Linked DNA regions of Homo sapiens: region 2 is linked to region 1. The links come from fine-mapping of genetic effects on gene expression. Tissue or cell type: thyroid. Region 1 holds a variant in brackets; the other region holds the start of a gene. All regions are shown on one strand. Distances are between the middles of the regions.

Region 1 (6,079 bases):
ACAAAGTTCATTTGCATCCGTGGCATAACTGGTATCTCACAGAAAACTGACTAGGGAGGGAGGGCGAGCAGAAGCATCATTCTCAGTTCACAGATGAGGAATCTAAGGTGGGGCAACTTGCCCAAGGCCACCCTATGGGGACTGGTACAGACGGGATCCAAACCTAGTTTTCCTGGGTTTGTTCTCTTTATTCTGTGCCATTGCATTCTTTCTAGAAATACAGAAATCATATAATTTATCATCCCAACTAGACAGCTTTGAAAGTAAAAGGGGGTGCTAAATGGATGGGCTCCAGGGCAAGAGGTATAAATTGTGACTCTCCCAGGCAAATTAGGACTTCTGGTCACTTTAGATATAACCCAGCCCCTTACACACACACAGACCCACAACACACACACACACACACAGACACACATACACACACACACAGGGCGAATCACATCTTTTAAATAGGAAAGAGAAATGCAGCAGGGTAACAATGCCTATAAAGTGCTAGAGTATTAAAAAATAAAAATAAATAAGTAAATAAAAAGTACTTGAGGCCTGGCGTGGTGGCTCATGCCTGTAATCCCAGCACGTTGGGAGACCAAGGCAGGCGGATCACCCGAGGTCTGCAGTTTAAGACCAGCCTGACCAACACGGAGAAACCCCGTCTCTACTAAAAATACAAAAAAATTGCCGCCGGGCGCAGTGGCTCATGCCTGTAATCCCAGCACTTTGGGAGGCCGAGGCAGGCAGGTCAAAAGGTCAGGAGATCGAGACCATCCTGACTAACAGTGAAACCCCGTCTCTACTAAAAATACAAAAAATTAGCAAGGCGTGGCGGCGTGCGCCTGTAGTCCCAGCCACTTGGGAGGCTGAGGCAGGAGAATGGCGTGAACCTAGGAGGCGGAGCTTGCAGTGAGCCCAGATCTTGCCACTGCACTCCAGCCTGGGCAACAGAGCAAGACTCCGTCTCAAAAACAAACAAACAAACAAACAAAAAACCCCCAAAAAATTAGCTGGGCGTGGTGGCAGGTGCCTGTAATCCCAGCTACTCAGGAGGCTGCAGAAGGGAGAATCGCTTGAACCCAGGAGGCAGAGGTTGCGGTGAGCCGAGATCCCGTCATTCCACTCCAGCATGGGCAAGAAGAGCGAAACTCCGTCTCAAAAAAAAAAAAAAAGCACTTAAGTATAACTTGTATTTTATTGTTTGTGGAAGTTAGTCTAGGCTTTACATTTCCAGGTCATCAGCTTGCAGGCAGTAAGAATACAAAGTCTAGATTGGGCAACTGGTATTAATCAAAGTGAGCCACATTCCAAATGTGGCCAGTTTAAGTTTTTCTGTTATCCATATTTGGTCCAACATTCTGAACACAAAAAATGGGTTTTATTGTTGAAACTTGTGACTTAGTATAATCACTGCTAGAAACAGGCTTTTTACTGGTGCAATTAACGGTATTCAAGGTATGTAGCCTGGCCAAAACCCTGAGAGACACTACCCACCCTTGTATAAACAGGTATTAGAATCCAGCCAGGCCTGTCCCTTCAGGGATGGTGCTCTGGGCTGCCCTGTGTCCAGCCACCAAATCTGGATGGTTTATGAGGGGATGATGCTGCTTTGGGAAAACAGTGTAACAGTGTCCCCTCTCTAGAGGATTCTTGTAGTTGCCTAGGGCGAACCTTTCGTGTCAGGTGTGGTTGGAAAACCTCAAAGGAGAGAGGGCTGGGCCTTTGTCAAGCTTCCCAAACAAGCTGAATCAACTGTTTTGTTTCTACTTGTCAATAAACGTTTGTTTGATAAATGCCTGCATCTGTGGCAGAATTCAGTCTCATACCCACATTCATTCACATGGTATTCACAACTGCAAGGTTGTGCGGGAGAAGCTGACCCTCACCACATCTATCTTTTACAACCTTTTACGCTGGCAACTGTGTCCTACCAGAGAGAACCCAAGAGGCCTATGTGGCCAAACCACTTTAGGTTGGTCCACAACAAACATGCCACTTGGTGAATCTGAAATGGGTAGACTTCAGGAAGGGATCCCTTAGTACATTTTCCTCATCACCAGATTTTGAGCCTCAGGAAAGCAGAGACGGGGTCTGTCTTGTTCACTACTATAAGCCTCATGAAGTGCCTGCCCACAGGAAATGTGTAATTTACATTTGTCAAATGAATAAAATAAGAAAGAATTTTGTCATTTCTAGATCTGGCTTATTAACTGTAATCTGTGATTGTTCTTTATTCTGCTAATGAGAACTGATCTGCACAGATCACAACCTGTTCTTTGCCCTGATTAAGTTAGTACTTCAAAAAGCAACAAATAACAGGCTAATAGTAAAAACCACTGGGATGATACTGTTTAATTCACACAATAATGCAATGAGATTGGTATCATCACCCCCATGTTTGGATGAGGAAACCAATGTCCAGAGAGGTTTTATCTCTTTTTTTTTTTTTTTTTTTTTTTTTTTTAGACAGAGTCTTGCTCTGTTGCCCAGGCTGGAGTGCAGTGGTACGATCTGAGCTTGTTGCAACCTCTACTCACTGCAACCTCCCGCCTCCTGGGTTCAAGTGATTCTTGTGCCTCAGCCTCCCAAGTAGCTGGGACTACAGGCATGTGCCATCACACCCGGCTAATTTTTGTATTTTTAGTAGAGATGGCGTTTCACTATGTTGGCCAGGCTGGTCTCAAACTCCTAACCTCAGGTGATCTGCCCCCCTTGGCCTCCCAAAGTGCTGGTACAGTGGCATTAGCCAAGTTAGTAAAGCCAAGACTTGCACTCAGTTCTGTCAGACTCCAAACCCAAGCACACTCTCCTGTGCTGTGCTACCCAGAATTAGCAATAACTCAGTTTTGTAGAGATTATTTTTTATTTTATTTATTTATTTATTTATTTATTTTGAGACGGAGTCTTGCCTTGTCACCCAGGCTGGAGTGCAATGGTATGATCTTGGCTCACTGCAACCTCCTCCTCCTGGGTTCAAACAATTCTCCTGCCTCAGTCTCCCAAGTAGCTGGGATTTACAGGTGCGTGCCTCCACGCCTGCCTAATTATTGTATTTTTAGTAGTAATGGGGTTTCACCATGTTGGCCAGGCTAGTCTTGAACTCCCAACCTCAGGTGAACCACCTGCCTTGGCCTCCCAAAGTGCTGGGACTACAGGTGTGAGCCACCATGCCCGGCCGAGTATTTTTTATTACTTTTACTCTATTCACTTTCTGCTGCGCTATTGAACACATGCATCTTTTTGGCACTTCATCTTATTTTATCAAAAGCTTTTTTTGGGGGAAAAACTAGATGGATGTTGGAATATATAAGCCTGCCTTCCGGTTCTTTTACTTTTAATTATTTTGATTGACATATGGCCTTGAGGGATGTCTAAGGGCCTCTCCTATCTTTGAGCTGCAGAAGGATCCGTCCCCAGGAATCTGTCGCAGCTCTCCCTGTCTCCAGGGCACCACTCCGACACCCTCCCCCCATGCACCCCTGCCACTTGCCACACTAGACAACTGAGAGCCTTTTGTTTCAC[G/A]CCTCTGTGGCTTGGTGCACAGTGTTCTTTCTCTGGAATCCTGGTCCACTCGTTTGTTCTTCACCTTGGTTAACTCCTTGTTTTCTTTCAGGATCTAGCTCAAACATTAGCGCATTTGGGACACTTAGGAGATTCCCTGCTATCCTGAACCTCTGCCAGGTCTCACCTGAAGCCCTTTCTCTCTGCTCTCTGGACCCACTGAGCACACCTCCACCTTAGCACCTGGCACGTGGCTCCGTAGTAACAGATAGATTTGCCACCCTTCTTCGCATATAAAGAGCCCAAGTCAGGAACTTTTTCTTAGTACTGGTACATAGCAGGCACTCCAAGTGTGTTAGATAATAAATGAATAAATCAGGAAATAATTAGCCAATCCACAGTAAAGCAAGAGAGAAATGCAGGGATCAGTGGGCAGCAGTCTGCAGTGGTCTGAGAGCTAGCTAAACTGAATTATTTCTCTTAGCCACTGTGCTTATTTTTTAACTTTAAGAGCATCATAGTTGTTTTTGTTTTTTGTTTTTGTTTTTGTCTTTTTTTTTTTGAGATGGAGTATCGCCCTGTCGCCCAGGCTGGAGTGCAGTGGCACTATCTCAGCCCACTGCAACCTCTGCCTCCCGGGTTCAAGTGATTCTCCTGCCTCAGCCTCTGGAGTAGCTGGGATTACAGGCGTGCATCACCATGCCCAGCTAATTTTTTTGTATTTTTAGTAGAGATGGGGTTTCACCATGTTGGCCAGGCTGGTCTTGGACTCCTGACTTCAAGTGATCCGCCTGCCTTGGCCTCCCAAAGTGCTGGGATTACATAGTTGGTTTTTATGAGACAACAGACCATTTAATTCTGAGTGTTCTGCTCCTTTGCCTGTTACAGCAAAAAACACCACCACCACCACCACCAAAAAAAACAAAAACAAAAACAAAAACAACAAACCTCTGGAAAGATATTCCTTTGTGGCCAGTTCTCCATCACTATGCCAGCCACCAGCATCCCCTCTGGGGACTGGGGTGATCTGATAGCGCCCAAGGACAGGCTGCACTCACCAACTCTGTGGCTTCTAGGTCCCCGATGTAGACCAACAAATGACCTGAGCAGAGCTATAGCTCGATCCAACTGTGGGACTCTGGCCTAATGAAAAACAATTCCCAGCATAGCCTGACCCCTTCAAAATGCAGATAAAAATAATTTAGTGATTTCCTCCCACTAAACTCTTGGGCATCAACCAAGAAATCTGCAGTGTGGCTGCTCTGATGCCATTGTACAATGGCAAATAGTTAGGTTTTCTTTGTGCTTTTATCAGTGCTTATTAGCAGGAACACACCTGGCATTTTAAGAGGGTTAATTCTCCGTTGGGTGGAATTGTTCCATGCAATGCACAGCATTTAGCACTTCTACTCCGATGGATGCCAGTTACCACAACAGCCCCCAAATGAACATTTTCCAAACATCTCTAGTGGTAAGAGCCATCAGGAATACTGGGCTTCCTGGTGGAGTTAGATTTGATTAATTTTGCAGCATCTTAGAAGAAATGGAAGAGGCCACCCAACCCAGGCGGTGGGTTGAATTCTAAAGGGACAAGGTCCAGGGAGTTAGACAGCACACATGAAGCAATGAGCCAGTTGGACCAAGGCTTGTTTGTGGGAAGAAGTGGAGGTCCTGAGAGCAGAGAAGGTGCACTGGTTCCTTGAATGAAGAAGTCAAGGCAGCGAGGAAGATGGGCTCACGGAACCAAGAGATCTGAGCTTGGGTAGAGGTCAAAATGGTACAAAAAAGATGAAGAATGAGTGGGGGATGGAGGAAGGCTGGGCTATGGGCTGAACCCTGGCTGCAGTCTGAGCCTCCTCCTCACAGCCTTTGGTATGCAGGGCATACCAAAGAAGCCAAGAAAGTCATCGATTCTGGACAGCTCCAACAGCTTAAAGTTTCTAGTTAGGAACTAGCTGTCTTCTCTTGCTTGGCCTTAAAAGAGCAACAACACAGCAACAACCCTATCACCACTGTGGTCACACCCTGCGAACATGACCTCCTGCAGAGAACTTCTATGTTTCCCAAAGTGACCTAAAAGGGCATTTGTATCCCAAAGGGGGAGAGGCTCTAAAACAAGCCCAGGAGAAAAATCCACTGAAGTGCTGAGTACAGGGCATGAGTACAGAAATCATTGCCCATCACTCTGATTTAATGGCTAGAAGCTCAACAGCTCTAACAGGAGAGCAATGGGCAAAGTTGCAGTGAAGCTACTTATTCCTGTGTCTCATCTTTCTCACTTATTTTAAATTTATTTTATCTTGTTCTGTTGTTTGCAACTTTATAAGTGGCCTTAAATCCTTTTGCAACAAAGATGGGTATAAATAAATAAAGCAAAGAAATAAAATACGTGGCTGCTGTTGTCAGCACTGCCAGACTGGGCGCGAAGTGTTTTATCTCTGATCTAAGAGGAAGGACGTGCTCTGCTGAAGTGAGAAGGGAGGAAGAAGGAGGAGAAAACTCCACAGTGTCGTGGAGAACAGTTGGCTGTGGACCCAGAGGCCTGCGTACTGTTCCGTGTCTGCATCAAAGAATCACAGAACCTCAT
Region 2 (5,540 bases), 170 kb after region 1:
TCAAGTTACACTGAACAGTGGGTGTCCTTAATGCAAATATGTATAATTAGGAGCTAAATCTTCGTACCTTTATAGGACAAAGGACCTAATAAGCGGGATGTACCACCTGTGACTTCTGAGGAAAGGAGAGCTTTTCATTTTTTCTTAAAAGAATCCGTTTCTCAGCCAGGCACGGTGGCTCATGCCTGTAATTCCAGCACTTCGGGAGGCCAAGTGGGCAGATCACGAGGTCAAGAGATCAAGACCATCCTGGCCAACATGGTGAAACCCCGTCTCTACTAAAAATACAAAAATTAACTGGGTGTGGTGGCACGTGCCTGTAGTTCCAGCTATGCAGGAGGCTGAGGCAGGAGAATCGCTTGAACCCGGGAGGCGGAGGTTGCAGTGAGCCAAGATCGTACCACTGTACTCCAGCCTGGCGACAGAGTGAGAATCCGTATCAAAAAAAAAAAAAAAAAAAAAATCTGTTTCTCATGAGGCAAAGAGAATCTGAGAACAACAGTCTTCTGAAATAGAAACAGGGACTGGGGGGAAAGGATGTGAGTTTTGTGTGTGATAGTCATAACGCATCACCCAGACCTGAGAGGTGACAATCCTGTGCTATACCATGACCTTTACTCAACTTTAATTTAAAGATTTCCACAGCCTCATCATCTTTTATGGACACGTTGCCAGTAGCCTGATAACTGGGTCTTGCAAGCACTTAGAGATCTCAAGAGTTTGTGTGTGAAGAAAAATAATCTCTAGTGATGCTTCCCACTGCCAACACACATGAACATTTAACACAAATAAGCTGCCACTTGTAAGAAGTCCACTTGACATCAATCCCTCGTGCATCCTGAAGACACCTGTCAAGATCACACTAAGATATTTAGAAGCAAACATCTTTAGAATAATGTTTTGTTCCCAAAGTGCTTAATTAGCAGAAACATTATGCTAGGGAACTGTCCTTGAATATGTACGCATTTTAACCTTCATGTTATTTTTTCTGAAGCACAAAATTTCCTCTCAGTGGATGGTCAGGAAATGATTGGGCACAGAAAACCAACCATCTGAAGTGTTGATTCATAAAATGAGTTCCATCTTTCCACGCAGGCTTCAGCTGCCTTCCAGGGTGACATCCCTTTTTATGAGGGGGACCATTCTTTGGCATCTAATGGCCTTTTCTCCATTCATTTGGGATGACCAATGCACCTATGGCCTACTTATGTCTGAACTCTTTCAATACCACCAACCTCTTCTGTCCCCTTGTGCCATCTTCCCACCCCCAATTTCAGCCAATTATGTTTATAAGACATCAGTTAGTGAATCACAATTCAAATGAATCCACCTATTTGCTTAGCAGCAAGTGGCCCCCGGAGTTGCTCCATTTGAAGCCCATAGGCCAGAGTTACATACGGCAGGCTTGCAAATGAGAACAGGATATGATTTATTTATGACGACCATATGTGTTTGATGCCCAATTGCAGCAGGTTGTGGCTTCTCTTGCATATCTTGGTCTGGGATGACCTATCTACTCAGTGTGTCCCATTTCAGGTACCGTATTTCCATGCTGGGAAAAGAGAGATGATGACTGCTGAGGGGCTGCACATACAGATGCTCCTAACCCTGCTTGCCACATAACAATCTGTGACCAAATGCAAAGTGGGCCAAATGTAACTTGCTGCAAAGGTTTGCCATGTACAATGGTTTTCAGTGGTGAGTGGAGAAGTAGCTGCTGGAATGACTGACCATGTGGGGTTCATTAAGCTGTTGTGCATTCACCCACGAGAAAGGCTGGGATGCTTGTGAAGGGAACTCCACTCTTCATTTCAGAAATTTTAACGCCCCACCATTTGGCAATGATGCTCCCAAGGAGAATGGCAGATATGCATCAGAAGGTTCAAACGTGGAGTCCAACTGAAGTGCAGTAAACTTCTGCCTTCAACAGTCTCACCCCCCTTTACCCCCCCCCCAGTTGTATTTATACTTTGAAAGAAGTTAACATGAAGCAGTAGTCACCTGGGCGTGCTCAATTTTTGACAAGCCTTAGTCACTCTGTACCCAGCAGAACAATTCACATTATATTCGAAATCCTGTGAAGATTCTGCCACACATGCTAACACTAAAATGCCAGTAGCTCCACTTACCTTCTTTATTAAGCCTCATAACCTCCCTGCTTTTTCCACCCTCTTTTCCAGCCTCTTCTAAATCTACATCTGCAGATGAAAAAGAAAAGGAAAACAGAAAATAAGGAAAAAAGGGGGGAAAAAAGCCAAAGTCAAGGGGGGAGGGAGAGTGTTTATTTGCAAACAGATCGATATAAATACTGTATATGAAATTCTTTCAAAAATTGACAATGCAACATTTTCTCCCAAGTCTGGGTTTCCATCTACCTGGCCCAGATAGGTACCCAAAAAACTATGCAAGCAGCAACAAAGTAGCCTTTTAAACGGACAACACCGTGGGGCTGCGAGCCCACCCCGCGGGCTGCCACGGGGAGCCGGGCACAGACAGACAGACAGCCCTGGCAGCCGGGCCTCTCCCTGTGCATTGATGATCTGTCTCTGTGTGTATTTATTTAGAGAGAGAGGGAGAAGCATGGAGGACACCGGGGGCCACTCTCTCTCTCACACACACACTTTTTCCCAGTGGCTCTAGGTGAATGGAAAGGTTACAGGATAATAAAAGGAGGAGGAGGTGGTGGGGTTCTTACTGTCGGAGCAGTGTAATTTGGCGGCGTCGATCCAGGAGGACCAGGGTTTGCCCAGAAACGCCTCCGGACTGGGCACTTTGCGATCCAGTGTCGCCATTGCTCTTCCTTCTTGTTGCTTTTTCCCTGTTCCTTCGGCAGCAGCAGCCGAGAGACACGGGATTCGAGAACGCTCCGACGTCATCTTCGGAACGTTCCGACATTGAGTGTTCTGAAAGGGGGAGGGAGGGAGGAAGGGCGGGATGGGAGGAGGGCGGCGGAGGAGGAGGGGAGAGGGAGCGGAGGAGGGGCGGGCGCTCGGGCTCCCGGAGCCGGCTCGGTGGGGCTCGCGCGCCCGCGGCCGCCAGGGGCAGCAGAGAGGCACCTGCAGTCCGCGCCCGCCCGCCCGCCGGGGCCGCCCGCCTGCCGGGGAGGGGCAGCGCGGACGGGCGAGCGCCGCGTGCGGGAGAGCGAAGGCTGCAGCGCGCCCGGCAGCCGGGATGCAGCGGCGCCGCCCAAGCCTGGGGCGCAGGGGTCGGGGCACACGGGGATAGGCCCGACGCGGGGCCGAAGGAAGGGTGGTCTTTCCCGCAGAGTTGCCGCTGGAGGACCGAAAGTTTTGCAGGCAGCCCTTGCTTCCAGCTTGTCGCTCTCTCCCCGCGTCCCTGTCGCCCAACGCGAGGCGCCCCCGCTGGGGTCCCGACGGCTTGGTGGGGAGGAGCCGTGAGGGGTTGCGCCCCCCACCCCCACCCGAGCCAGGGAAGGGACCCTGGTGACCTCGCCTCCCAGCCCTCACCCCCGTCACCCCTTTCTTCTCTTTCCTGGAGGACTTTGGACCATGGAGATTCTGCAGTTGTTGCTCTAGGAGCTGAAACCAGTGGGTAGATGTCGTTCTGAAACGCAGGTGAGTTTGGAGCGCTACGAGCTACCTTCCCATCTCAGGCTGCGGGGCGTGCAAAACTCAAAAGTTAGGGCCCCCGGACCCCCGGGTTCCCCGCGCGGTGCGTATCTCCGGCTCTCAGAGAACCACTGCATGGACTTTGCTCCAGGGTCAGCAGAGCGGGAGGGCGAATTTACGGCTCTTGGAAGACGACGCTAACGGGCCTAGCCCCTGAGCCGTTTCCAGCGCTCCCTGCCGTGAGACGAGGGTGGCCCGGGTTTGCGCAGGCAACCTTTGGCCAGGAATCTGATTCCTGGGAGAATTCACTTCAGGCTTAACTGCTCTAGCCAGCTAGAAAGGGAGCGCTAGATTTCCTCTGGATTTTGGACGTTGGGTGCTTTAGTTGAGATTTTCACCCTTTAAAGAAGGCTTTAAAAAGTCTTCTGTTACTTCTTTTTAACAAATCCTTTTGTTTACTAGAATTATCTAAACTATATGGACACCGCCCTCACCCCACAAGCGACATATTTTTTTTTCTCTTTCGCCAGCACCCTTTTAGCTCTCACCACTGCTGTTTCCCAAGTTGTCACAGCTGAAGCGCACTGATTGGAAGTTGCTTTGTACTGACTGAGTTCTGCCCTGGCTGAACCATCTAATAATTTCCCTGAGCTTGGCACCCTGTATCGCTAAGCCAGTGTTAGGATGGGCGATGAAGGAGGAGCTGCGGATTTGCCTTTAGTTGTGATGTTTGTGTGAGTCGGCTTGTTTGTGTCAGACTCAGATAAACTGCATTTGCCTTTGCTCTCTTTCGAAGGGCTCCTACATAGCTAAGGTGTCGCTGGGTGAAGAATTCCCATTGTAAGAATTGGTGGTGTTAACAAATATGTATTACTTGTTGACCTCTTGTTATATGCTAGACCCTGGGCTTGACATTTCCTTCCTTCCTTCCTTCCTTCCATCTGTCCATCTTAAGTCAACCAATATTGCCTGTCATGGAACAGCTGTGCCCTCCTGTCAGGAGGGAAAGATGAGTGAGACCCATCCTCACCCTCACAGAGATGCAGTCTGGTGGTCTCTGGAAGAAGGAAGTTGTGAAACTTACCGATTCCTTGGGAAAACAGGCAGGTACACAGGGACTGGCCTGTGCAGTGGGTGGGGTGGTCTCTCAGCTGTGCCAGTTCATAGAGGAACCGAAATCTAGTTAGGAGTGAACAGAAACTGCGTAACAGAAGATGGGCTCTGCTCTGCATCTTGGAAATTGCCAAAGATTTGTAATGGTAAGGTGAAGACTGGTCTTGCGGAGGGAGGGGGAATAATGGTATTAGCAGAGGCTTCAAGCTGAGTATAAACATGGTGTGTTTGGGTGTTGAGCATGGTTTGCCTGGGATGGAGAATTGTTACTGGGGGCTTGGGGGTGATGCATTTTGATACCCAGGCCTGGATCAAATTATGGAAGGCACCAAACGGCAGCCTAAAGAGTCTGGATTTTGTTTGACAATGGGGAGCTACTGAAGGGCTTTCTGTACCATAAAGATAAGTTAAAAGTGTGAGTTAGAAAGATTGGAGTACGGAGCCTGGTTAGAAAAGTAGTGCTGCAATATTCATGGTGTGAAGAGATGAAAGCCTGAACTTTGGTGGTGCTATGCAGGTAGAGAAGAGGAGACAGGTGTGAGACTGTGAAGAGAGCACCTGATCAGAGGGTGTGCTGTTGGGCTAGATTTAGAGGTGGGGAGAGAGAATGCGAGAGCTCTGAGGCATGAGTAATTAGATGCTGGAACACTTTCCCTTTCCCTTCTGCTTCCCTATTTTCCCTCTATTTATTATCTATTTTGATGTTTATTCCTGTGTTGTTGTGCATGCAAGGAAGGTGTAGGCAGCAGCTAATGTGGCCCCAAAGGTCTGTACCTCCTGGTGTTCATGCCCTTGTGTAATCCTCTTTTCTTTAGTGTGGGCTAGACTTAGTCACTTGCTGATAACAAAGAGAATATA

Alleles and levels. Alleles are on the strand shown, and positions count from the first base shown. SD is a standard deviation of normalised expression in the study named.
For the expression in thyroid of the gene that starts at base 2,917 in region 2, G is the high allele of the variant in region 1 and A is the other (moderate effect, 0.60 SD a copy in GTEx).

Evidence for each region. PIP is the estimated chance that this variant, and not a neighbour inherited with it, causes the effect.
Region 2: it holds the start of ATXN7L1, and the variant in region 1 is fine-mapped to the expression of ATXN7L1 in thyroid (GTEx, PIP above 0.99).

The regions. Positions count from the first base shown.
Region 1 is chr7:105,702,158-105,708,236 of GRCh38, forward strand. All of the region lies in intron 3 of ATXN7L1 (ataxin 7 like 1), which reads right to left. Among named protein-coding and RNA genes, the nearest start is that of EFCAB10, 120 kb to the left of the region's middle. The variant G/A (reference allele first, on the strand shown) is at 3,514.
Region 2 is chr7:105,873,683-105,879,222 of GRCh38, forward strand. ATXN7L1 (ataxin 7 like 1) reads right to left here and starts at 2,917. Exons shown (of 12, transcript NM_020725.2): 1 at 2,696-2,917; 2 at 2,130-2,198. The coding sequence starts at 2,876. RefSeq lists a silencer at 2,960-3,169.